4 linked regions of the Homo sapiens genome follow. The protein of the gene in region 4 interacts with the protein of the main gene of each other region in a pairwise test. Each region holds a gene or a part of one and is shown on either strand. Other genes may lie near its edges.

Region 1 (3,488 bases), on a different chromosome or scaffold from region 4:
TGCACACGCAGGTTCTGGGCGACCTCTGGCCCTGGCCATCTCTGCACTAACTCATCTGAATTATGAAGGTGGCAGTCTTGGTCAGTAGTTTAAAGAGTTTCCCTACTTTTTAACCCTTTTTGAAATAAAACTTTTACAGGTAGTAGATTCCTATTAATAAAATTATTTAAGTTCATGTTTCTCTTTTAGAGAATGAATTGTTTAAATACAAATATGTGCTTTTTTAAAACCCTTATTTTTAAATATATATATATATTTTAAAAAAACCTTTTAAGTAGGAAACCTCTAAGGTATTTCTGAGCTAAAAAATAGCAGTGCTGGATACACTTTAAAGATCTTTGCAAGACGGTTAGAGTGACTTTGCTTTGGAGACTAGAGGTGCTGGAGAGTAGACCCAGAGCAGGAGGTGGCTGCTGGGAGCCATGATGGACGATGTCCACTCCCCACACAGACATAACATGCCCTTGCTTCTGAGGGACTCTCCTATGGGGAGGTGGCTTGACCCACCCGGTGCCAGGAGGCAGGGAAGGAGGTAGCTTGCAAAGCCCACTTTATTGAGTGCTGGAGCATTTACACAGCGCGGAGGAGGAGATAAGCTGGGGCTGAGCAAACCGCACCCAAGGGGTTAGAGGGATTCTGGGTGAGAGGGATGAGCTCCCAAGGCCTCTGAGGCTTCCACCCACACCCACCCTCACTCCCAGGGTCCAAGAGAGGCCCAGAAGTTGTACAGCAGCATCCAGCAAGGCCCCCTCGCACAGCTTGGACTTACAGGCCACTCACCTCCAACAGGGGAGATAGTCACCCATGTACTGCAAAAACAGGGACTACCGGAAGCAGCCTAGGGCCCAGAAGTGTGGAAGCCTGGAGTAGAGCTGGGTCGGGGGCCAGGCTTGCTGCACTGTGCCGACTGCTCCCAGGGTGACGGCCTGTGCCCAGTGCGGAATATGGCCCATAGAGAGGATGCTGTCAGGCAGAGGCTCTAGCATCTGGCTTTTATTGGTTGCCTTTCTTAAACCCAGCATTTTTTAAAAAGTCACCTGAGGTGGTAGTTTAGTCAGGGCTGGAGAAAGGGGTAGGCCAGTGGTCAGTCGGGAGGAGGGTACCGGTGTGGCATGATGGGTGCTTCACATGTAGTACCAGGCCAAGAGTCCAGCAGCTAGGGCCACACCAGCGGCCAGGATGAACTGGAGGCTGGGCTTCCTCAGCACAGCCATAGCTGTTCGGAAGGGACAGCTGCTGCCCTCCAGGGCACCTGTGTGGCAGCACCAATAGGAGACATGGCATCAGTGGAGTCTCCTGCTACACCTGCCCCAGGAGGGGAGCTCAGGACACACAGACCTACCTTTGTCTTGTTCAGCAGCGTAGAAAGGGCATTTACGCATGTCTCCTTTCCCATCGTGTACAGGGAACCCATCCTCCAAGGTCTCTCTGGCCAGTGTGGAGCCGGCCTGGTCCAGTTCATTGAATATCTGCAGGAGCAGAGGATCGACTGAGCCATCTTTGGGCTGCCCATACTTTTTTTTTTTTTTTAAATGTCTTTTGAGATGAGGTCTCTGTTGCCCAGGCTAGAGTGCAGTGTTATGAACATGGCTAACTCACTGCAGCCTCAAACTCCTAGGCTCAAGTGGTCCTCCCACCTTATCCTCCTACGTGTGTGTACCACCATACCTGGCTAATTTTTAAATTTTGTGGGGAGATGGTGTCTCACCTTGGTTGCCCAGGCTGGTCTTCAACTCCTGGGGTCAAGTAATGCCCCTGCCTCAGCCTCCCAAAGTGCTGGGATTACAGGCATGAGCTACTGCGCCTGGCTACACTCTCCTTTTAGAGGACGCCCTCCAGAGAGAGTGAGCTGGAGCAGGTGAGCTTGCTCAGGTGTGCCAACTACACAGCAAGCAGCACTGGTGGGCGGCAGCTGCACTGCCTGATGGTCTTCCCTCCCTAGCAAGAGCTCTGGGGAGGTGTGGATATTGGTACCCCAAGAAGGCTGCCAAATGCTGGGTCTCCCCTGGGAACTGACCAGAGATGTAGCCTTCTCTGAGGTGGCTCAAGCCACTGAAACTACCACAGCACAGACAGGAGGGCATGAGTACATCCCCATTTCTAGGTGCTGGTTATTTTTTTATCAAGAAGCAACAGAAAACCTGGAACATGGGAGAATGAGACTGTGGCAGGGCATACTCATCCTGAGTGCCCTGGGAGGCCTCAGTGGAAGCTGACAGGACCTGGGGACAGAGTAAGCTTCCCCAGGTTCAGCCTCATCTAAAGGCTACTTGTAAACAGAGCTTATTTACTCTCCTTGGTGGCACTGGCTCTCTATTAACTTATAAAGCAGGGCTTCTCAGAGCAAAACTTGAAAAGAAAATTAACCATTCTTCAAGACCAGCATCCTGCAATGAGGGAGGAAGCCAGCTCCATTCTTCCAGACCCCTCTATGTGCGAGAGGACTCACCCTTCCCAAAACACTACCCACTGGCATCTATCACACCAGGCCTCCATGCTGGGAACCACCCACTGGGCCCACAAGCTCTGGTGGCCAATCTGGTGGCCACCTTCCTCTCGGCACCCTGCAGCTCATCTGTCCTAATGCCATGTGTGCCTTCATGGGCCACTATGGATCTGCTACCACTGTCAAAGTTTCCCTCTTCAGCCCTAGCAGCTGGCAGCCCCCAATAGTACCTGCATGTTATACTCAAAAGCCTTGTTGGCCTCCTCCACGATCCTCTCTTTGGTCTTCATGTTCAGGTCCAGGGCGTTCATCCTGGCCCGGTAGAGCTGCTTGAACTGCTGGGCATTGTCCACATTCTCAAACAGGTAGAACTGGGTCCCTTCCCCTGTGCTGGGGAGTTTCAGTGCTCGCTGGGCCACCTTCTTCAGCACCTGGCCCCCCGAGAGATCCCCCATGTAGCGGGTGTATGCATGGGCCACCAGTAGCTCCGGCTCGTTCTGCCCTATGTAGTGGATCCGCTCCACGTACTTCTGGGCAGCCTTGGGGCACTGCACCTGCTCCTCCCAGTTTTCACCAAAGAAATACTCCATGTCCTTGGTCAGCGCCTCCTTCCGGTGCAGCTCCATGGGGAAGTACAAAGGGGCAAAGGCTGGATGGTCCTTGTTGCGCTCCATTTCCTCCTCGAGGGCTGAGTATGTGAAGTAAAGTGCCGTGGTGGCCAGCTGTGGAGGTGACAGGAGGAGGCCAGCTATGCCTGAGCACACCACATCCGAGCAGCTGGATGCAGAGGCTCAAGTGACAACCCCCAACCCCAAAGACCCAATCCTATGGTCCATTTTTATGTAGTGAATTATTTAACACACAAGGAAGCTTTTGTTTCTTAAAGGAATGGCATGGTGAAGTCTTTGGAACACGCATACTTTTGCTTCCTTCACACCACTATGTTATTCTATCTAAGCCATGAGAACCAATTTTTTTTTTTTTTGGCGGGGTAAAGAGTCTCGCTCTGTCACCCAGGCTGGAGTACAGTGGGACGATCTCG
Region 2 (6,720 bases), on a different chromosome or scaffold from region 4:
TCCAGGCCTGTGCCTCACCCCTTCTCTCTTCTAGGCTCAGTGTATGCTTAATCAGGCATGGTGCATCAGAGCGGGAAGGAGCCATCAACAGTGTATACTTCTGGAGCCTTCTACTGATAAACAGAGGCCCCAGAAGACGATTTGACTTACCTGAGCTCCCAGCTGGGACTTAAACCCAGGTGTGTCTGAGTCACAACTCTTCGGGGATGCCGTGGTGAGCTGGGGCTGAGCTCCTGTATTCCCACTCCCCCACCCCACCCCCACTCCTGCCATATCAGGGCTGGTCTCTGTGGACTCAGCCCAGGGCTGCCTCCTCTTTGTCACCCCAAAGTGGGGCAGCCAGGGACAGCCAGGGTGTGTTCAGAATGGGTTCTTCCTGCAGGGCAGGAAGGGCAGATTGTTAAAGGGGCTGCGGCCCAGACCACCCTGGTCCCTCCTCCGGCAGTGACTCAGACCCACACTGTGCCGTGCAGCTGTGTGCCCTGCACACCCGCTTGACGGCGCACTGCTCACTTCTGGGGGGCCCTTTCAGAGGCACTTTTAAAGCAAATAAAACATTTATTGTTCAGATTTTTTTCCATTTTCTTCCTTTTTACAAAAACATGCATACATACACAGGGTATGGTGGGTCCTAGGAAAGACACACACACACGCCTCACTCACACACACGCTCACACACACGCCTCACTCACACACATGCTCACACACATTTTCCTTCTTGACCCCAGGCCTGGACCCCCAAAAGCCTTGAAGACTTTGCCAGAGCAGCCTCCCCTCCTCCATGTCTGTATCTTCTCTCCCACCCCTTCCCCCTCAGTCAGGCTACTCCTATGTGGGGTGGGAATCAGAGCTATGGTGGGGGAGGCCCCAGAAACAGAGAAGGCTCCCCGAGTGGGCAGTGGCCGAGGGGTCCCAGGGGTATGCTGCGCTTCTTGGGGAGATGAAGGGTTTGGCACCATTGGATCAGGAAGCACAGGACTCCCAGAGCACCCATCTGCTCCACCAGGGCATCGCCAGGAGGTTGATGTAGGGGGGCCTCTGGCGAGGGTACGGACCAGATGGAGGGCTGCCAGTCTCGGCTGTCAGGGAGCTTCGTCTCAGTGCCCAGTGGTAGAGGGAAGCTTCCAGAGTCGTCTGAGGAAGCAGGTGAGAGGGACTACCCCTGCACTCAGGAATATGGGACCTCTTGGCTCCCCACTCCCCCCTAGCCCCTAGAGCCTAGGAAGGGCCAGCCTGTCTGAGGCCAAGTTCACATTTCTGTGTGGAGCCTGAGGCTGTGTGCAAAGTCTGGGGTTTGCAGAGCCAGGAATAGTGGTTAAGGGTGAGCCCGACGGAGCCGGAGCCAGTCCTCCTCTGTGCAGTCCTGAGGAATGGGGGCCACAGCCAGGGCCCATACTGGAGGGGAGAATCTGTTCTCGAGAGCCCTGTGGGGGTCGCCGCCCAGCCCGTCTCCTCTCAGGGTCCTCTCCAGTTCCCATTCTAGACCCAGGGATTTTCTCACGCTCCCTGGGATAACTGTCAAAGCAGGCAGGCTGTTCTCTGGTTCCAACTACTTGCCCACAGGATCTCTAAAGACCCAGGAATGGGGGCTATTGCCAGGGGTTAGAAGAGAACCAGGTCCCAAGGGCATGGTGGGCGGGCAGATGGTTCCAGAGCCTTAGAGATTCATAGGTTCTTCCTCCTCCACCAGCTGCTCCGAGGGCCTGTGGGGAGGGACAAGGGTGGGATGCTGGAGCACCAGGGCTGCAGCAAGGGCCTTAGCTAAGCTTCCTCTCAACCCTGGTCAGGAAGCCTGGGAGGGTTGGGGTGGCTGCATAGCGGACCCGGGGTCTTCAAGCAGGGAGGAATGAAGCGGTGGAGAGGCTGTGGGCCCAGGGCCAGGGGTCTGGCATTACCTATCTTCAGCCAGGATGCCCACAGAGAGGGACGCCAGTGCGGTCACTGCCTCCACTTCTTCTTTGTCAGCCCCTGGCACTCTAGGCACCCAGGAGTCTGGACAGGAGGCCAGGCGCTGCATGCAGCCCCAGTATTTACCTGGGGTAAGATGCCAGGTCAGAAAGGGTTGGAGAAAGCAAGCCCCTCCACACTGCGTCCTAGACCGGATATTGAGGTTGGTGTCTCAGGCCCAGGGCCCCGGAGGAGCGGGCCTGTCCTCCACTTAGGGTCGGCTCTCCCACCTGCCCCTCTCCTCACTTCGCTCCCACTCCCGCACAGCCTGACAGGGTACACAGAGTGGGTTCAACATGGCTGTGAGGGAGTCCTAGCAGGTGCCCAGCCTTTCTCTCATCCCCTGTGGCTGCAAGGCCACCTTTGACTCATTCCCCACAGGTGCGGGGCTCCTGAGAGCATCAGGAGAGCCTGCTTGCCTGCAGACAGGGTCTGTGTCACAGTGACCTCCCAGAGCCCCAAGCTCGGGCCTCCCACTTAAACACAGCCCCCACCAGTGCTCAGCCCAGCACTCAGGAAAGGAGGGCCTGGGAGGTGGGACGAACACAACATGGGAGAACTGACCATCACCACGGCCGCTCTGCATGGGTGCCCAGGCCAGGAGAATGCTCCTCCTGCCTGCTGCTGTGAGGAACCATGTCCTGGAATCTGGCTCAGTGTGAGGGCACCCACCGTAAGAGGAATCAGCCATGTCTTTACCATTATGTAAAGACATCACGGCTCCCCTACCCAGCCCTTGATATGGGAATCTATTTTACTCATTTTTATCCCTAGTATAGATTATGGGTCTTGACATAAGATGCTCAATAGATGTTGAGTTGAAGTTGAAAATTTAAAGTACTTTACAAATGTGGGGGTTATCCCAAGACGCAGCCCCCAAGCCAGCAGAGCTCCTGAGACGCCTGTGGCCAGGACTGAGGGGAGGGATGGGAACCAGGCCTTTTGGCAAACAAGGCCTGAGTGTTGCTCTTGACCTGGCCCTGGTCTAGGGCTGTCGCTAGAGATGGAGGCCAGTCCCTACCTTGAGGGGCCACTGTCTGGTAGGCCCTGCTGGCTCCATCGGGGGGGCTCAGAGGATAACCCCTCACTGGGGGGTGCTCACCATTGCTGCCTGGGTCACTCACAGGAATCTTACTCCAGACCAACAGCAGGTCACCTGGCTGGCACCGGAAGCCCTAGGATCTGGCCACGGTGGGGCAGGGTACCACCAAGATCCTTCAGTCTGAGCTCAGCGAGTGTCCCATCTCCACACTTACTGTGCACCCGGATCACGGCCTCCAGAGAGCGGATGGCATTGAGGTTGGGTTTCTGTTTCCAGCCTTCTTCTGAAAGGGGATCCACCTATAGAAAACAGTACATCAGCCACCAGTCTCTCAGGGACCCACAGGCCCAGCTCACTCCCACCCCAGGGGCCCCAGCCTTCTAGCCACAAGCACACTCTACCTAGGCCAGGAGATGCTGCCTGGACCTAACTTGGAACAGAGGCTTCCGCTTCGCCTACCTTGTTTCAGGCTTGGCCACTCCCACCCTGTCCCATCCCATCTGCCTGCTCCTTGGGTAGTCCTGAGAGCCGGGCTTACCTGCCTGACAGAAGCATGGATGGGGGAGGGAGACGGCTCACCCTGTTACCCAGAAGAGCAGCCACACAGGCCTCAGAGGCGTCACAGATGGCTGTGAGGTCATGGCCACCCTCCAAGGCCAGCACCACTGCGCCTCCTGCCAGGTTCATCAGTTGCTGCGTCATGTATCCAAAACCTAGAGGTTGGGAGGGGAGAAATGGGAGGGGCGGGAGTGGAGAGGTGACCCTGTTCTCTACCCCTGTGGCTTCCCTGCTTGCTTCCTCCCTAATAAAGAATGACTCACATGTATCAATCACTATTTCCAAAGTGCTTTCACATTGAATGTCGTACAAAACCTACTAGTATGCTTCACTCAAGGCTCAGGGAGGTTAAGGGCCTTGGGAAAGGCCCCACAGCTAGTAAGTGGCAGCAAGGTAGGACCTGAACTTGGGTCATTGACTCTAGCCTGTGTCTTTTTCACTGAGCTACACCCTCTCTTCTTTCTGTACTCTGGGCCCTGTGGCCACCCTCTATTCTGAGAGTGCTGCTTCTCTCTCCCCTTCCTCTGGAGGAGCTGCCAGCCCACCTGGAATCAACCCAGCTGTGGTGGGGAGTCCCACGGCTGAGCTTCCTGCCTACTGGACTTAAGTCCCCATGGGTATGACCTGGTCAAGCCCTCCGTGGTGAACCGGCCTGGTCCTGAGAAAGGGCTTGGGCTGTGCTCGGCTAGGAGATCCCGGGGAATTTCAGGACCAGCTGCCATACTCCAGTCCTCAGGCTGAAAGCCCTGGGCTGGCCACTGCCACCTTCCCTTTCTGACTTGGGAGTGCCTCCCAACTCCCCGCACCGCCTGGCTCTCTGTCCCTAACGTCCCCCTCAGCTGAGGCTCCCTTACATTTGGCAGAAACATGGTAGCCACCCAGTGGGGCCGGGTGACCCTCAGCAGCATCAAATCCAGCAGACACCAGGACTAGGTCTGGAGAGAACTCTCGGGCGATGGGCATCACGACTATCCTGTGAGGTCACAAGAAGTGGCGATCATCGTACTGTGCAGGGTTGCCAGGGGCGGTCCTGCCAACTTTGCGGTGGGGCACCCTGTTCTTAGGACTCCAAGGCTCCCAGTGCCCCAGCACAACTGGCAGATTTCTCTGACCTCCTTGACCTTGGCTGGCCACCCATGTCCCTGGCACACACAGCCTAAGGACTCAGCCCCCTAGGGGACTTAACTAGCAAGAGGCAGAAAGGAGCCAAGGATGGAGCACCAGAGGGAATGAAAGAGGAGTGTGTGTGACCATGTGTGTGTGCATGTGTGTGTGTGCATGCAAGCATCTGTGGGGTGCAGTGGCCGGAGCCACAGGGAAAGGGTAATCTCACAGCCTTGCGGAGATGGACTCTGGTCACAAAGCTTCAGGGACTACAAGTGCTCAGTCCTTTGGACTGAGTTGACCACACCCAGCTACTCACTACTTGAGAGCTGAGTAGGGGACAACTAGGTCCTCTGAGGTTCTGCGCCACCTGGCTACATTCTCTCATCCTCTCCCTCTTCCAGGCCCCCCCCCAGCTGCCTTCCTCTACCCCTGATCCAACTCTGGGGCCTGCTTGGGTGTTCTTCATAGCCCTGGGCTCTGAGAAGACTCCAGGAACTCCAGCCCAGGGCTCTCGTAGAATTAGCTGTCATGGAGATAACTCCAGAAAAGTGTTTGAAGATCCATTTCCAGAATTCTCTTTTCCCAAATAGAGTGGCAGCCTTCTCTGACTAAATGTGCCAGCTCTGCTCACTCCACCACCCACCTGCCAGCAATCAGTTTGACATTGGCTCTCGGTAATGTATGCCTTTGCAAAGCACCCTTTGACTTTTGCATTCTTCTCTCTGTTTGTCCTATTCTCACTGGCGTTCACCTACAATGTCTAGGAACTGGTGGGGACAGGCTGACAATCCAACTGATCACCTCCCCCCTGGTGCTCTTGGGAGAAGGGACAGGAGAGGGTGGACTTGCCCCTCTGGGCCCCCAGAGCACGTACCTGAAAGCAGCCAGGTACTCAGGATCCCCCATGGGGGGGTCCAGACCTCCAGCCCAGGCCACATTGACATTGAAGCCCTCACCGCTGCCAGCCCCTACCTGGAAAACAGGAGGCAAGAGAGACATGAGGACAGCAGAGTCCCAGAAGGGGAACACCAGTTTGTTAGAGCTGCCAGCCCAGCTCATCCAGCCTCCCCATTTCCAGGTGGGGAAGTTTAGGATCAGAGAGGCTCAGCAGTCTGCCCAGGATCACACAGCTCGTCATGACAGAGGCAGAGTAAGTGTCAGGAGGAGGTCAATGAGGCTGGAAGATGTGGCCCTGACATGCGGTTACCTCATCCACAGCCCCACTCCCCGGGAAGAAGTTGCCGTCGTCATGGCGATGCAGGGAGATGTAGAGCACACTGGGGTCTTGGTAGAAGGTTTGCTGGGTGCCGTTGCCATGGTGCACGTCCTGTGTAGGGAGACGGGCAGCGATTAGGGAAGGCAGAGAGATGGGGGCCAGGACAGGTTAGAAGGGTTTCAAGGTCAGTGGCCATTCTGAGGTCAGGACCCTAGACTGGGATCAGGAACCTGGGGTTCCTAAAGCCACACGGTCGAGTGGCCCCACGTAATCCACTGCCCGGCTCTGAACCTCGGCCTCTCTGTGCTGGACAGGGCTGGCTGTAATATGAGATCCTGAAGGAGAGGAGGTGTCCCAATCTCAGGCCAGCCCACCTGAGAGAGTAACTGTGTGGACATGGGGTTAGTGGCAAGGAGAGGGAAGGGTTCAGGGTTACACATATCAGGAACCACTCTGTCTTGCATAAAGTCATGAAGTTATGAGGAGATCAGAAACCAAGCTCGGTTACAGAGGGGCAGGTACACGAGGCCCAGCCCCATCCCTCGTAGGGAGAGCTGGGCCCTACACTCGACTCACAGGACCATGCGGGAACTCAAGTGTGCAAAGGTCCTCCACCGCTCTCAACTTCTGCTTAGAAATGTCTCTTACACAGCTGTCAGTGCAGAAGGGACATAGCTTAGCAGTTAAACGCAAGCACTCTAGAGCTAACCCGCCTGGGTTCAAATCCATCTCATGACTTACGAATGACTGTGTGTGAGTTACTTAATCTCTCTGTGCTCACTTTCATCTGTAAAGTGGGTTATAGTCAGGATTAAATCCATCATGTGTAAAACCATCAGTGTCTGGATGT
Region 3 (7,038 bases), on a different chromosome or scaffold from region 4:
CCTGCCCAGGGCCCACACCCACGCTCACCCTGCCGCTCTCCACAATCTCTCTCTGGAGGTCCTTAGAGGCCACGATGAGCACCTGAATAGCTTGCATGAGGCTGGTACAGCAACCAAGGATCCTGCCAAACAAACAAGTCGAGGATACACTGAGATCAAGATCCAAGATCAATGAACACGACGGTTCTCTTCCCCACTCCTAGCCAAAGGCAAGCTTGGAATGGGAAAGGGAGGTAAGAAGGGTGCTGAGGTTGCTGGAACATTCTGCGGGGAGGCACCGAAGGAGAGGCTGGGGAGTGAGAGAGATCTAATTGTGGGTCTCCATCGTAAGGAATAGTGAAATTGTGATTCCTAGGACTTCTTTTCTTCTTTTTTGAGACAGAGTCTTGCTCTGTCGCCCAGGCTAGAGTGCAGAGGCACGATCTTGGCTCACTGCAACCTCCACCTCCCAGGTTCAAGTGATTCTCCTGCCTCAGCCTCCAAAGTAGCTGGGATTACATGCATGCACCACCACGCCTGGCTAATTTTTGTATTTTTAGTAAAGATGACTTTTCACCACATTGGGCAGGCTGGTCTCGAACTCCCGACCTCAGGTGATCCTCCCTCCTCAGCCTCCCAAAGTGCTGGGATTACAGGCGGGAGCTACCGCGCGGGTTTCTTTTCTATAGTGAAACAGCAATATTGCTGTCATCATTAATACTGTTATTGATGATTACATCAACTCAGCCCTTCCCCGTGGCTGCTACTGCTCTCCTCTAATTCCCTAATAAGTATGCAAAGTATAGACCAATGTCAGGAAGACAGATCCTGCTCCCCTAGGTCCCACCATGCCGCTCAGACCGACCTTTCATTCACCTCCAATTTGACTCCTGTGTCTCCTGCTCGGGATTTGCTGAGCATCTCCTGTGAAAAAGAAGCATGGTTTCTAAATGTGCCTTGAATATTAAGGATCCACTAATGTCTTACTATACTTTCAGTCCAACATCGTGTGGTAGCTGGGAAACCTGAATCTGGAAGTCCCCAAGTCCCTGCCCACATTCTTGAGAGAGTCAGAAAAGAATCCAGACTCTAACCTATTCAGGGGGAGTGCAGCTGCAGTGGGCTGGCTCTGTGATCCGTGTCATTTTGTTTTGTTTTGAGATGGAGTCTCACTCTGTCACCCAGGCTGGAGTGAGCGGTACGATCTCGGCTCACTGCAACCTCCGCCTCCTGGGTTCAAGTGATTCTTCTGCCTCAGCCTTCTGAGTGGCTGGGATTACAGGCACGCGCCACCACGCCCAGCTAATTTTTGTATGTTTAGTAGAGACCAGGTTTCACCATGTTGTCCAGGCTGGTCTCAAACTCCTGACCTCATGATCTGCCTGCCTCGGCCTCCCAAAGTGCTGGGAATACAGGCGTGAGCCACCACGCCTGGCCAGAACCCAGGATGTTCTGACACCAAAGTATCTGATTCTTGAGGAAACTAATCACCTTCTCTCATGAGGACCTTCTCTCATGAGGACCTTCTCATTTTCTATCACTCAGAAAAACTAGCGAGTTCAGATTTTGGTCTCTCTTTTTTTTTTTTATAATTTAAAAACATTTTTACAGACAGGGTCTCACTCTCTCACCCAGGCTAGAGTGCAGTGGTGCAATCATGGCTCACTGTAGCCTCCAATTCCTGGGCTCAAGTGATCCTCCTGCAGCCTCTGGAGTAGCTGGGACTATAAGCATGCACCACCATGCCCAGCTAATTATTTTATCTTTTGTAGAGATGGGGTCTTGCTATGATGTCCAGGCTGGTCTCAAACTCCTGGACTCAAGTGATCCTCCCAAGGTGCTGGGGTTACAGGCATGAGCCACTGTGCCTGGCAAATTCTGGTTTCTGTCTTAGGGGGTTGCCATGGCCTTAATGAACGACTGTGACATGTTTAATGAGCAGTGTTGCAGAAGGGCAGCTGCAAAGGCATCGTTTCAGGAGATCCTGCAGGAACCTCCTACCTCTATTCTGGCCGTGGCAGTTTCAATAGCAGCTGAAGTGGCCGCCATCTCCTTGTCCACCAGGTCCCCCAGCTCCTCCTGCTTGATGTCCAGTCCCCTGGGCAGGAGCTCCTGTGAACACATCACAAAGGCTGAACTGACCTTGGGGCCTCCTGTCTCTTCTCCTCTGCCATCTGTAACCCTTACAAGATGGCAAGGCAGGAGGCCACCCAGCAAACACCTTCTGCAAGCCACAGGGGTTGTGGGGGGGTCTTTTGCAGACCCCATCTTGTCCTCTCTGTGACACAAACTCTGGAACCTCATGCTCCTCCTCACTCAGGATCCACCTCCTTCCAGAATGCCATCGCTGCCTCCCCCTGCAAGGCCATTCCGCCACCACTAAGACCCCAGTCCCTTAGTTGTGCAGTGTCAATTGTACTAGCTACACAGGAGGTATTTTTTTACAATTTTTCTTTTTCTTTTGCTTTCTTTCTTTTCTTTTCTTTTTTTTTTTTTTTTGAGACAGAGTCTCAATCTGTTGCCCAGGCTGGAGTACAGTGGCACAATCTCGGCTCACTGCAGCCTCCGCCTCCCGGGCTCAAGGGATTATCCTGCCTCAGCCTCCCAAGTAGCTGGGATTGCAGGTTTGCACCACCATGCCCAGCTAATTTTTATATTTTTAGTAGAGATGGGTTTCACTATTTTGCCCAGGCTGGTCTCAAACTCCTGACCTCAGGTAATCCTCCTGCCTCAGCCTCCCAAAGTGCTGGGATTACAGGTGTAAGCCACCACACCTGGCCCTAATTTTTTATTTTTTTGAGACACAGTCTTGCCCTGTCACCAGAGATGGAGTGCAGTGGCATGATCATAGCTCACTGCAGCCTCGACCTTCCATGCTCAAGCAATTCTCCCACCTCTACCACCAGAGTATCTGGGAGTACAGAGGTGCACCACCAAGCCCGGATAATTGTTTTTTTTTTTTTTTTAATAGAGATGGGGTCTCACTATGTTGCCCAGGCTGGTCTTGAATTCCTGGGCTCAAGTGATCCTCCTGTCTTGGCTTCCCAATGTGCTGGGATTGAATTACTATACCTGGCCTACAACTTTTTCAAATACAGATGATATCTTCCACTTTGACCCTGACTTAACTTTGCTTCCACAGTGATCATATGAGGCGGGTATTATTCCTACTGTGCAGATAGGAAGCCAGGGATCAGAGGTAGAACGTCTTGACCACAGTTATGGTAACAAATGGCAGGGCAGGGATTTGAACTAAGGTCTGACAAACAGCAAAGCCTATGATTTTTAAAACATGATGTGTTATACATACTAAGGTATAAAATATATATGAATGGTTCAAAGGATAAGAATAAAGACGCATGTTATCCACCACCCAACTTAAAACTTAAGGAATGCTGTAAGAAACATCAATACCTTTGGAATCCTATTTGAACTTGTATGTGCCCTGATTCTATCTCCCTTACTCCCTGCCTTCTACCCCAAGAGACACAGAATTCAAGAGCGTGGTTGTTGTGTCTTATTTTATTTTTATTTTTTAAAGACAAAACATAAAAGCCTGTTGCCCAGGCTAGAGTGCAGTGGTGCGATCATAGCTCACTGCAGCCTCCCACTCCTGGGCTCAAGTGATCCTCCCTGCCTCAGCCTCCTGAGTAGCTGGGACAACGGGCACACACCACTAGGCTCTGCTAACTTTTAAACTTTTTTGTAGAGTCAGAGTCTTGCTTTGTAGCCCAGGCTGTATCAAACTCCTGGCCTCAAGTGATCCTCCCGCTTCGGCCTCCCAAAGTGCTGGGATTTTCAGACATGTGCCACTATGCCTGGCCTGTCTTATTATTATTATTTTTTAATTCCACATAGATGCATCCCTATTAAGTTTGAATGTTTGAGTCTTTATATAAAAGGAATCCTACTGTATATATTTTTCCATGACTTGATTTTTCACTCAACATTCTATGTGTGAGATTCATCCTAATACCTAGTAATTCTGATTCTATGTATATACTCTAGAGAAACTGACATGTGTGCATATATGATCATAGGGGCAAATTAATAACAACCCAAACTGGAAATAACCCAAGTGTCCATCACCAAGAGAACAGACGGATGAATTAAGCGATATTCACACAATAGATAATGAGAGAGCAGTGAAAATGAATTTATCTTCTTGGATTAATCTCACAGAATGTGGAGTGAAAAAGCCAGTTGTAGAAGAATATATACAGTAGGACTCCATTTACCTGTAGTCTATATCATGTGAAACTAACTCTATTATTTAGGGAGGCAAAGATGTAGATGATAATTTTTTTTTTTTTTTTTTTTTTTTTTGAGGCAGTGTCTCACTCTGTCGCCCAGGCTGGAGTGCAGTGGTGCAATCTCGGCTCACTGCAGCCTCCGCCTCCCAGGCTCAAAGGATTATCCTGCCTCAGCCTCTCAAGTAGCTGGGATTACAGGTATGTGCTGGGATTACAAAATTAGCCACCACAACTGGCTAATTTTGTATTTTTAATAGAGATGGAGTTTCACTATATTGGCCAGGCTGGTCTCAAACTCCTGGCCTCAAGTGATCCACCCACCTCAGCCTCCCAAAGTGCTGGGATTACAGGCGTGAGCCACCACACCTGGCCCTGATCTTTTTATTTTTTCTTTTTAGAGACAGGGTCTTACTCTCTCACCCAGGCTGGAGTACAGTGGTTCACTGCAGGTGAACCACTCTGCAGAGTACACTCTGCAATTCACTGCAGAGTACACGGTTCACTGCAGTCTTGAGCTCCCAGGCTTAGGTGATCCTCCTGCCTCAGCCTCCTGAGTAGCTGGGACCAAAAGTGCTCACCATCACACCCGGCCAATTTTTAAATTTGTTGTAGAGACAGGGCGCCACTAAGTTGCCCAGGCTGGTCTCAAATTCCTGGCCTCAATTGATCCACCCACCTTGGCTGGATGTGGTCTTTTTATTATCTTCTTCTGGAACTCCAATTAGACAGTCTATCCTCATGGCTTTTATTTTTTATTTATTTTTTGAGTGGAGTTTCGCTCCTGTTGCCCAGGTTGGAGTGCAAAGGCACGATCTTAGCTCACTGCAACCTCAGCCTCCCAGGTTCAAGTGATTCTCCTGCCTCAGCCTCCTAAGTAGCTGGGATTACAGGCGCCTACCATCACGCCTGGCTAATTTTTTGTACTTTTAGTAGAGATGGGGTTTTGCCATGTTGGCCAGGCTGGTCTAGAACTCCTGACCTCAGGTGATCCACCTGCCTCGGCCTCCCAAAATGTTGGGATTACAGGCGTGAGCCACCGTGCCTGGCCCTATCCTTGTATCTTAACCAATATATTCCAATTCATAACACTGGGGAAAAAATGAAAAAAAACTGTACTGCATAGAAATGGTTTTCTTATTTTTCTTTTCCATAGAGTCCATGTCTTCTCTGTCCCTATATATACTTAACCCAATTTCTGGTATACAGGACATATTTATTTATAGCAGAGGCAGGGTCTCACTCTGTTGCCTAGGCTGGAGTGCAGTGGCACAATCATAGCTCACTGTGGCCTCCAAATCCTGGGCTCAAGCGATCCTCCTGCCTCAGCCTCCCGAGTAGCTGGGACTACAGGTGCGTGACATCACACCTGTCTAATTAAAAAAAAAATTTTATTTTGTAGAGACAGGGTCTCACTATGTTGCCTAGGCTGATATTGAACTCCTGGCCTCAAGTGATCCTCCTGCCTCGGCCTCCCAAAGTGCAGGGATTACAGGTGTGAGCCACCATGCTCGGCACTACATCTTTAGTAAATGAATGAACACAGTGTTATTTCCATTTTGGGTATTACCTGCCCACCTAGATAAAAATCCTCAGAGACAGGGGAGCTGCCTATACTTCTTTGATATTGCCTAGTGTAATGATGACAACATAGTAGATTCTCAGCTAACAGCCAGTGAATTAAATATAGCTGGAAAGTCCTTCAGGAGGTTTTTCCTTTTTAAATTTTTTTTTTTTTAATTTTTAAAGAGACAGGGTCTCATTTTGTTGCCTAGGCCTGTCTCAAACTTCTGGGATCAAGTGATCCTTTTTTTTTTCGAGATAGATCTCACTCTTATGCCCAGGCTGGAGTGCAATGGCATGATCTCGGTGCACTGCAACCTCCACCTCCTGGGTTCAAGCAATTCTCTTGACTCCACCTCCCAGTACCTGGGATTATAGGCATGCACCACTATGCTGGGTTGATTTTTGTATTTTTAGTAGAGACAGGGTTTCACCCTGTTGGCCAGGCTGGTCTCTAGCTCTTGACCTCAAGTGATCTGCCCACCTCAGCCTCCCAAAGTGCTGGGATTACAGGCGTGAGCCATCCCGTCTAGCCTCAAGTGATCCTCCTGACTCGGCCTCCCAAAGTGCTGGGATTACACGCATAAATCACTGCACCCGGCCAGATTTTCCAATTTTAACAATCTCTTTCTAGAATCAAGTTCTAAGTGCAGAAAGAACTAGCTCAGAACATCACCGATTCCCTGGCCATTCACCAGCACGCACACCCAGAAGAATAACAATGCTCCTCAATGATACTACTCCAAGTACCTCGCCGATGGCCTTGATCTTGCTCAGGCAGTTCCTCATGGCTGTGCTGTCGGCATTCTCAAGGCTTCCCTCTTCCTCCAGGGAGGCCAGGTAGGCGAGGGTTTCCCTGCCATACTGCTTACAGGCCTCGGTCAGTGCTGGAGATACAAGGCAATAGACACTTTTTTTTTGAGATGGAGTCTCGCTCTTGTTGCCCAGGCTGGAGTGCAGTGGCGCCATCTCGGCTCACTGCAAACTCCGCCTCCTGAGTTCAAGCGATTCTCCTGCCTCGGCCTCCCAAGTAGCTGGGATTACGGGTGCGCCACCATGCCCGGCTAATTTTTGTATTTTTAGTAGAGACGGGGTTTCGCCATGTTGGCCAGGCTGGTCTCGAACTCCTGACCTCAGGTGATCTGCCCACCTCGTCCTCCCAAAGTGTTACGGCGATTACAGGCGTGAACCATTGCATCTGGCCCATCGTTTTTGTATCTTTAGTAGAGATGGGGTTTTGCCATGT
Region 4 (6,689 bases):
TGATTTCACAGTTCCATGATGAAGAAATATTTTCTGCAAAGCAAATTACTGTAAATAGGGTAATAGTAATACATTTGGCCATGATTTAAATTCTGCACACATTTCAGAGAGAACAATTTTACAATGTTAAGTTTTAAGCAAATGCTTATTTCATGCAGTTACAATAAGTTTAGGCCAAGCACTTTTTAAAAAGGCAAATATGTTCGAATTAAATACTTAGCCAAAAAAGGATTTCATTATGCAAGACTGATAATACAATCTCAAATACTGACAGAAATTAACCCCACCACAGCAAATTATAAATTCAAAGCTTAAATTCTTTCATTACACTGAAATTGCTAAAAAAAAAAAAAAAAAAAAAAAAAAACTTTGCATAAAATAGTCTTCACCGAGTTAAGTATTTCATTTTATAGTTACTTGTTGAGGACATAATATACTCAATAAATATTATAAATTAAGTGTAAAATTTGAACTGGAAAGAAGTTTAAGCATTTCATTAGAGCTCAAAAATCAAACCCCATGCACCTAAAAGTAATAGCAGTTTATTAGGAATTCTTCCCTTTCTCACCTGTGTATCAACATATTGGGGATCAGTAATTTAGATGAAAGTATACTACAAAAGGAGCAAAGGACACAGACTTAGTAGGTTAGAATATTCTGGCTTATGCTAAAAAACAAAAAGCCTTTTTTTTAAAACAGACATGCAACCACAAATTTCTCAAGTATTTTAGACACTTGGTTCATCTGTATAACAAAAAAAAAAAAATGCATTTGACTTAAAAAAGAAATAGAAAACCCTAGGTTTCTGTAGTTTAGTTTTTCAGATTTACACATGCAAATCATATATTCAGATATTTTTAAATGGGAAAACAACTTACTTTCAACAACTTAATTTTTCCAGTAACACGTTACTATGTTAAAAAGATGCGACAGTATATTCATTTAATCTGGCAATTTTAATTTCAACAAATACATATTAACAACAAATTAAATCCTATTGTAAATACACTTCTTTGTTATACCACGACCAAATTTTCTAATCCTAGTACAGGCCACAATGAAATAGGCCAAACATGCTACCATTAAAGTTTGTTGGGATGAGATTGTAGTAAGTTTACTCAAAGTATTCAAGTTCTAATTTTTAAGGTGCTGTAGAGAAACATAAAAGATTTCACTGTATCTAAAAATATGACTGTTTTGATCTTAAGCTATACATTTTATTTTTATCTAACTGATTAAGACCTGCCTCTTAATGAGGCACATTTTTGGCATTTCTGTAAATGCTGCTACATACAAGTAAAAATAAGGAAAAGCCGTGATAGTAACATTCATAGCTTTCATAGAAAAATATATATTCCCTGAATTAGTCATATCAAGTGGTCATTCAGTATGAACTGCAATATTATAAACAAAATGACATCAATGGACTTTCTCTAATTGCCTATTTCCAACACTCTACTTCAGAACTCAATAATCAGTATCTCCAGCTGAAATTCCCAGGTCCTCCTAGTTTGTTTTTGACCTTTGGGGATGTGAATTGTAGGGAATGGATCTGGGTAGTTTTTGCTTCACTCAGAAGTCAAATAGGCCCATTAGCACTTCCTTTGGAAAAATGCCTGATTTTTTTTCCTCATGACACCATAGTTGTCGTGGTCTGAATTTTTACACTGTAATGGAGAACCCTGAAAATTAGCATCAGGTTAAGATTTTGAAATTTGTTCACTTCAAGTTCTTCCTAGCCTGTACACTTCCCATTATATTCTTCCTCTAAGGAATCATGTCTTCAAGGCCTTGCATTCTGGAAAGGAATAGTAGTCTTATAGCAGGCCATTTGTCTTTTCTTTCCACCTCTCCACCTACAGACTCTGCAATTTATTTCCTCCTCAGAATTCCCCAGAGCACATGTCTGTACAAGAGCTGACTGGGAGGAACCCACTGGATTATGGCTTTTAGAAAATTCCTCCAAAGATGCCAATAAGGGAGTAATTTTAGAGCTGGGAGCAGAATGTAACTGCCAGTTTACTTGTGTACCAATTGTTTTCAGATGCCACTTCTACATTCTCATAGTCACTATTGTGCATTTTCTTTCCAGGATCTGAACCCCCTTAAAAAAAGCATTTTTCTATTAATATCTTCTAGCTCTTTTTCACTTTCAGAATTTATGGTTGTATCATCCTCTTTATAAACATTCAGTAATTTTTTCTTAGCCGCAGCAGAAGCATTTCGATGGGGCAGTTTTCTGCTACTCTTCCTAATCCAGACATTTTCTGGTCCTGAGATCGTTTCTTTTAGATTACTCATTATCTTTATTTTATTTGCAGCAACAGTAGCACATCTGCGGGGAACTTTCTCAGGTACCATTTTTGCTTTCAGAGTTTCACTAGGCATCTGCACTGCATCCTTCTGATTATGCATACATGTTCTCACTTTTGTATTGGGTTCTCTGTCTCTAGGAACAAATTCTGAAAAATGAGTGAAAGTTCATGTAAATGCAAAAATCTTGTAACACAAGATTTTACTACTGCTAACATTCCTCAACAACACTCATTCGGAAACAATAAATTTAAAAGTCATATTGCTAAATGATAAATTTTAAAATGTGATACTAAGGGCTTCTTCACATTGATATAACCTTACATTTGCTTATCTACAACTATAAGGATGTCACTTAAAACAGTAGCAGACTTGTAAGAATGGGGTGAAAAGTTCCTTCAGCATCGGCATCATAAAGCTGCTAATCTAAAAACATATATATGAGCATTTTACATAATTTGAATTACTAAATCTTAACTTCATTGTTCCAGTATTTTCTGACCTAGGTATGTGACACACGAGATTCAGATTAAAATTCTAAAAAATAACACAGAGTTGCTTTAAGGAACCAAAAAGTGCAGAGTGCTATGAGAACACAGACTGGAAACCTAACCTAGCCTAAGGGATCAAGGAAGGCTTCCTTTAAGGAAGCTTTTAGACGAGAGGTGAAAATTGTGAAGGGATTTGCCAGACAAAAAGCACTTTGGAGAGTTAACTACTTCATGCAGACTAAGGCAGTTTTTAGAGGGGGCTTGAAATCACACTGGAGCTCTACACAGCCACATGATGCCAGAGCTACTACTCCGTGCTGACCAAACTTAGGAGGGCTCAGATATGTTTGTTACCAGTGTCTCAAAGCCAAATTTTCAAATTTCACAAACAAGTCTAATTAGTACTCTTCTAGAACAGAAGTGATATTCCTTTTACGTATCTGAAGTTCACGGGCCCTTGAATTTTAGGTCTTTCTTGCAGCCATGAACAGTCAAACTATCTAAAACTGCCTTCATGGTACACACCAATCTTGATGGCAGTTTGTTTTGTAGGACCCTGCCTGAAGTTTCCAGACATTTAGCATTCAAAAGGTAAGGCTGTAGATCACTGAAATAACCAGTTGATATCCTCCACCCACACTAGACATCTGGAGGACTCCACCACATTCTTTTTACTACTAAGTACTAGAAAATGAGAGCTCTTTTAGTCAGATACTATCAAGTAACACTATTATTCTGTAGCAATGAAACCACCAATGCCAACCTTCTGAACTTTTTCTTCTGTGAAGATGTTTGCCCTTCTGTCACAAAGCTGACTGAAGGGCAGATGAGTACAGGTAAAAACTGCTTCTGTGGACTGACATGTTCATACAGCTAGACTAATGAGGCAGGCCTCTGCCCTCACAGTGCAAGCACTTCAGATTTTTCCCTAAGTCTATGAAACTGATTTCACACTTCTCTAAGATCAGTTGAGCGTTCTCCCCAGAATAGGTTAGGAAATACTTTATTCAAAGCAACCCCACCACATACACATCAGTTCCTTTTGCCAACTAACTTATGTGATTCACATGTTTTTCCAGTGAAATTCTAAGGGCACTATGTTTTGTTCAGTGTTCAGTCTCCAGGCATTGTAAATGGCATTTTACCAGAGTAAGACACTCATCACGGCATTACTCTCATGCAGCATGCCCTTACCTCCTTCAGCTGGACTCTGTGGGAAGAGAAGTGGCTTAAAGTGCACTGTGTTTACCACTTCAAAGACACTTCTCTTGGGAATTTTAAAATTATGAACTAGTATCTCCAACAAGTCAACCCTATATCCAAAATGAATCTTTAACACATTAAATCAATGTTAGCAAATGCTAAAATGTAAATATGCTACAAAGGGTAAACAAAAATTTTAAAATATGCAAAATTAAGGTGAAATTTGCACTTTATAGTAGGATGAGAATATACTATTATCAACTAGCTGCACCATTTGCATTTGGAAGAAAAGAACAGATAACTGGTTCATTCCCAACAACCTATTCATCCAGACAAATAGATAAAATTCTATTTCAACTACAATTTGTAACAAAATGCTTTAAGTTGCAGAAATTCCATTTTGATGTGTGATCAAAGTACCTATACTGACAATTTAGGAACCTAGTAAATACTAATTCTAACACATTTTAATAAATGTTTATTTGTCATCCAGAATAATGGAAAAGTTAAGATTCTGCAGGAAAAAAAAAACTAAAATCAGGTTTTTAAAAAATACTTAAGGAAATTTGAACTTCAGTAACTATGCCCAAGGGAGGGAGAATTTGAATTACACTGTACTCTAACTTGATAAAGCTGAATCTCTTAAGTCTTAGACAATAAAACAGGAATTTCAGAGAATAAGGATAAAAACAATCTGAGGAAGACAAAACTGTGGAGAATTTTTTTAAATACATTCAAGTCAGTGTTAATTTTATTACTGAAAACTGAGTAAATTATAAAGTGCTTTTTCTCAAGAAAACTACAAACAGTTTTAGAAATATATATAGGATATTTCAGGGTTAGAAGTCAAATTTGTGTGTTAGGGTACAAGCTTAAGAACTCTGGATGTTGCTGCTCTAACAATGCATTTGTGATGGTGCCATGTGATACTAAGAAGTCAGTAGAATCCCACCAGTCCTACTGCCTCAGATGAGTCTTGTTTCAGTCATGGGTTTACAAAGTCATTGAGTGCTTGAGGACTTGTTTTCCTGGAAGTGATTCCCTACTTGGGTATGGCAAGAACACATCAGTAGTGTAAAACTGTACATCTGTAGTAGCACTCCATGATCATTTCCCTGGATGACCACTTTAAATTATAACTCACAGATATGTGTGTATTCTAAGATGGTATATGTGGTGAATAGAAACCTGGATACAAACATAACAGTTCTGACTCAACACAATCTCTAGTTTCTACATTTCAAGGATTAATCATATTCTAATTAGACTTTTTTTTAATTTTTAAGCTACCTTATTTACAGATTCTGCACAATATTTCATCATACAAAACTGTTTTCCTAAATTCAAAGTAAACTGCATATGGTTACTACAGAAGCATTATAAAATTTTCATTGGCATTTTTAAAATTGGAGCATTTAAAACAGATTTGAGAATGAGAAAAGAATGTCTGACTCAAAATGAAAACATACTAGCCTCTTTCATAAACTCCTAGAATCTTGACATTATTGGTTGCTGTGGTTGGTGGATAAATCAAATCCACAAAGTGGGTAAACCCTCTAGGTGCAAGTTATAAGCTCCCTCAAGCAAGCCTTTTATCAGAAAAGACTTGAGATATTCTCTCCTCTGTCTGCCCTTCATTGATAAGCAATGAAATGACCCCAAAACTCAGAAAGCAAATAACATTTATCAATGATCTTCATCCCTCCCAAAGCAGAAGTTTCCAAAAACATCCCATAAACTGAAGTACCCCAATGGCTGTAGAATAAAATGGTTTCTGTAACTTGCTGTGTTTTTAAACAGTTCCGTTTTCTAGGGGGAGCTGGTAACACTGCAGTATGGCAGCATCAGGTCAAAAGACCATCAGAAATAATTCCATGAACTAGTTCATTAGCTTATTCATTTTTAGGGTTCATTTACTCAATGATGGGCACCACACAACTCTGAATTTTTGTTCTTATTCTGGAACTACAACTAATCTAGCTCATCACAATACAGTTTTCTCTCACCCCTAGAAAAACTCAGATTTGTGATGGCTATTGCAATTTTTAATAAAAATCTCATAAAAGCCTTATTTTGAAATATGAATTCAGGGACTTTATACTTAACTGCTTAATTTGCTTTTTAGAAGCAATACCTTAAGAGCATTTCACACTAAATGCAGGCAGAATCAGAAGTAAATACTTGTTTTCAATCTACCCTATTACTGTACTACTGGAAAGAAACCAGGCCACAGACAATCCAATGGCAAACCCCTTTTCCAGCAGGGCTCCTGACTCGCTTCAGTTCCCCTATCCAAGCTCATATGTAAAACTCACAGCGCTCGCACCCCTATATTCTGCCTGCATGAAAAGAAATTACCAGTGGAAAAGAGGTTGGGGAACCACTTGGGACAAGTCTGGAATTAACCAGCTAGAATGTATTTGGCTTGGAGTAGTGTTTTGTTTTGTTTTTTAACTCTTTTGCTTGTTAAGATGAAAATGCTAAATTTATTATATCCCATTTAAGAACTGACAAAAATCATCTAAATGAATAGATTAATTTAGAACATTAACGATCTTATGTGAAGTGGAAAACTAAAGATCTGCTTGACAGGCTCATGTAATTTTTTGATTGGGATTTTGTAGGTGAATATATAGTTGCAGTCCAAGGACTGATTCACATTTAGAAAATTAACTTGAATAT

The links.
Region 1: the proteins of BRWD1 (region 4) and HMOX2 interact in binary tests that used the Homo sapiens proteins (3 or more experiments, as listed by UniProt).
Region 2: the proteins of BRWD1 (region 4) and HDAC7 interact in binary tests that used the Homo sapiens proteins (3 or more experiments, as listed by UniProt).
Region 3: the proteins of BRWD1 (region 4) and HIP1 interact in binary tests that used the Homo sapiens proteins (3 or more experiments, as listed by UniProt).

What each region holds. Positions count from the first base shown.
Region 1 is NC_000016.10:4,507,393-4,510,880, reverse strand, and holds the end of HMOX2 (heme oxygenase 2), read right to left. Parts: intron 3,169-3,488; coding exon 2,677-3,168; intron 1,470-2,676; coding exon 1,343-1,469; intron 1,253-1,342; coding exon 1,125-1,252; 3' UTR 534-1,124; downstream 1-533.
Region 2 is NC_000012.12:47,782,184-47,788,903, forward strand, and holds the end of HDAC7 (histone deacetylase 7), read right to left. Parts: intron 5,982-6,720; coding exon 5,862-5,981; intron 5,627-5,861; coding exon 5,529-5,626; intron 4,521-5,528; coding exon 4,402-4,520; intron 3,703-4,401; coding exon 3,569-3,702; intron 3,289-3,568; coding exon 3,204-3,288; intron 2,035-3,203; coding exon 1,896-2,034; intron 1,704-1,895; coding exon 1,658-1,703; 3' UTR 539-1,657; downstream 1-538. UniProt on the Homo sapiens protein: Responsible for the deacetylation of lysine residues on the N-terminal part of the core histones (H2A, H2B, H3 and H4).
Region 3 is NC_000007.14:75,546,911-75,553,948, forward strand, and holds part of HIP1 (huntingtin-interacting protein 1), read right to left. Parts: intron 6,680-7,038; coding exon 6,543-6,679; intron 2,092-6,542; coding exon 1,981-2,091; intron 904-1,980; coding exon 845-903; intron 123-844; coding exon 29-122; intron 1-28. UniProt on the Homo sapiens protein: Plays a role in clathrin-mediated endocytosis and trafficking. Involved in regulating AMPA receptor trafficking in the central nervous system in an NMDA-dependent manner. Regulates presynaptic nerve terminal activity.
Region 4 is NC_000021.9:39,184,956-39,191,644, forward strand, and holds the end of BRWD1 (bromodomain and WD repeat-containing protein 1), read right to left. Parts: 3' UTR 2,463-6,689; coding exon of another isoform or gene 2,071-2,462; 3' UTR 527-2,070; downstream 1-526. UniProt on the Homo sapiens protein: May be a transcriptional activator. May be involved in chromatin remodeling. Plays a role in the regulation of cell morphology and cytoskeletal organization. Required in the control of cell shape.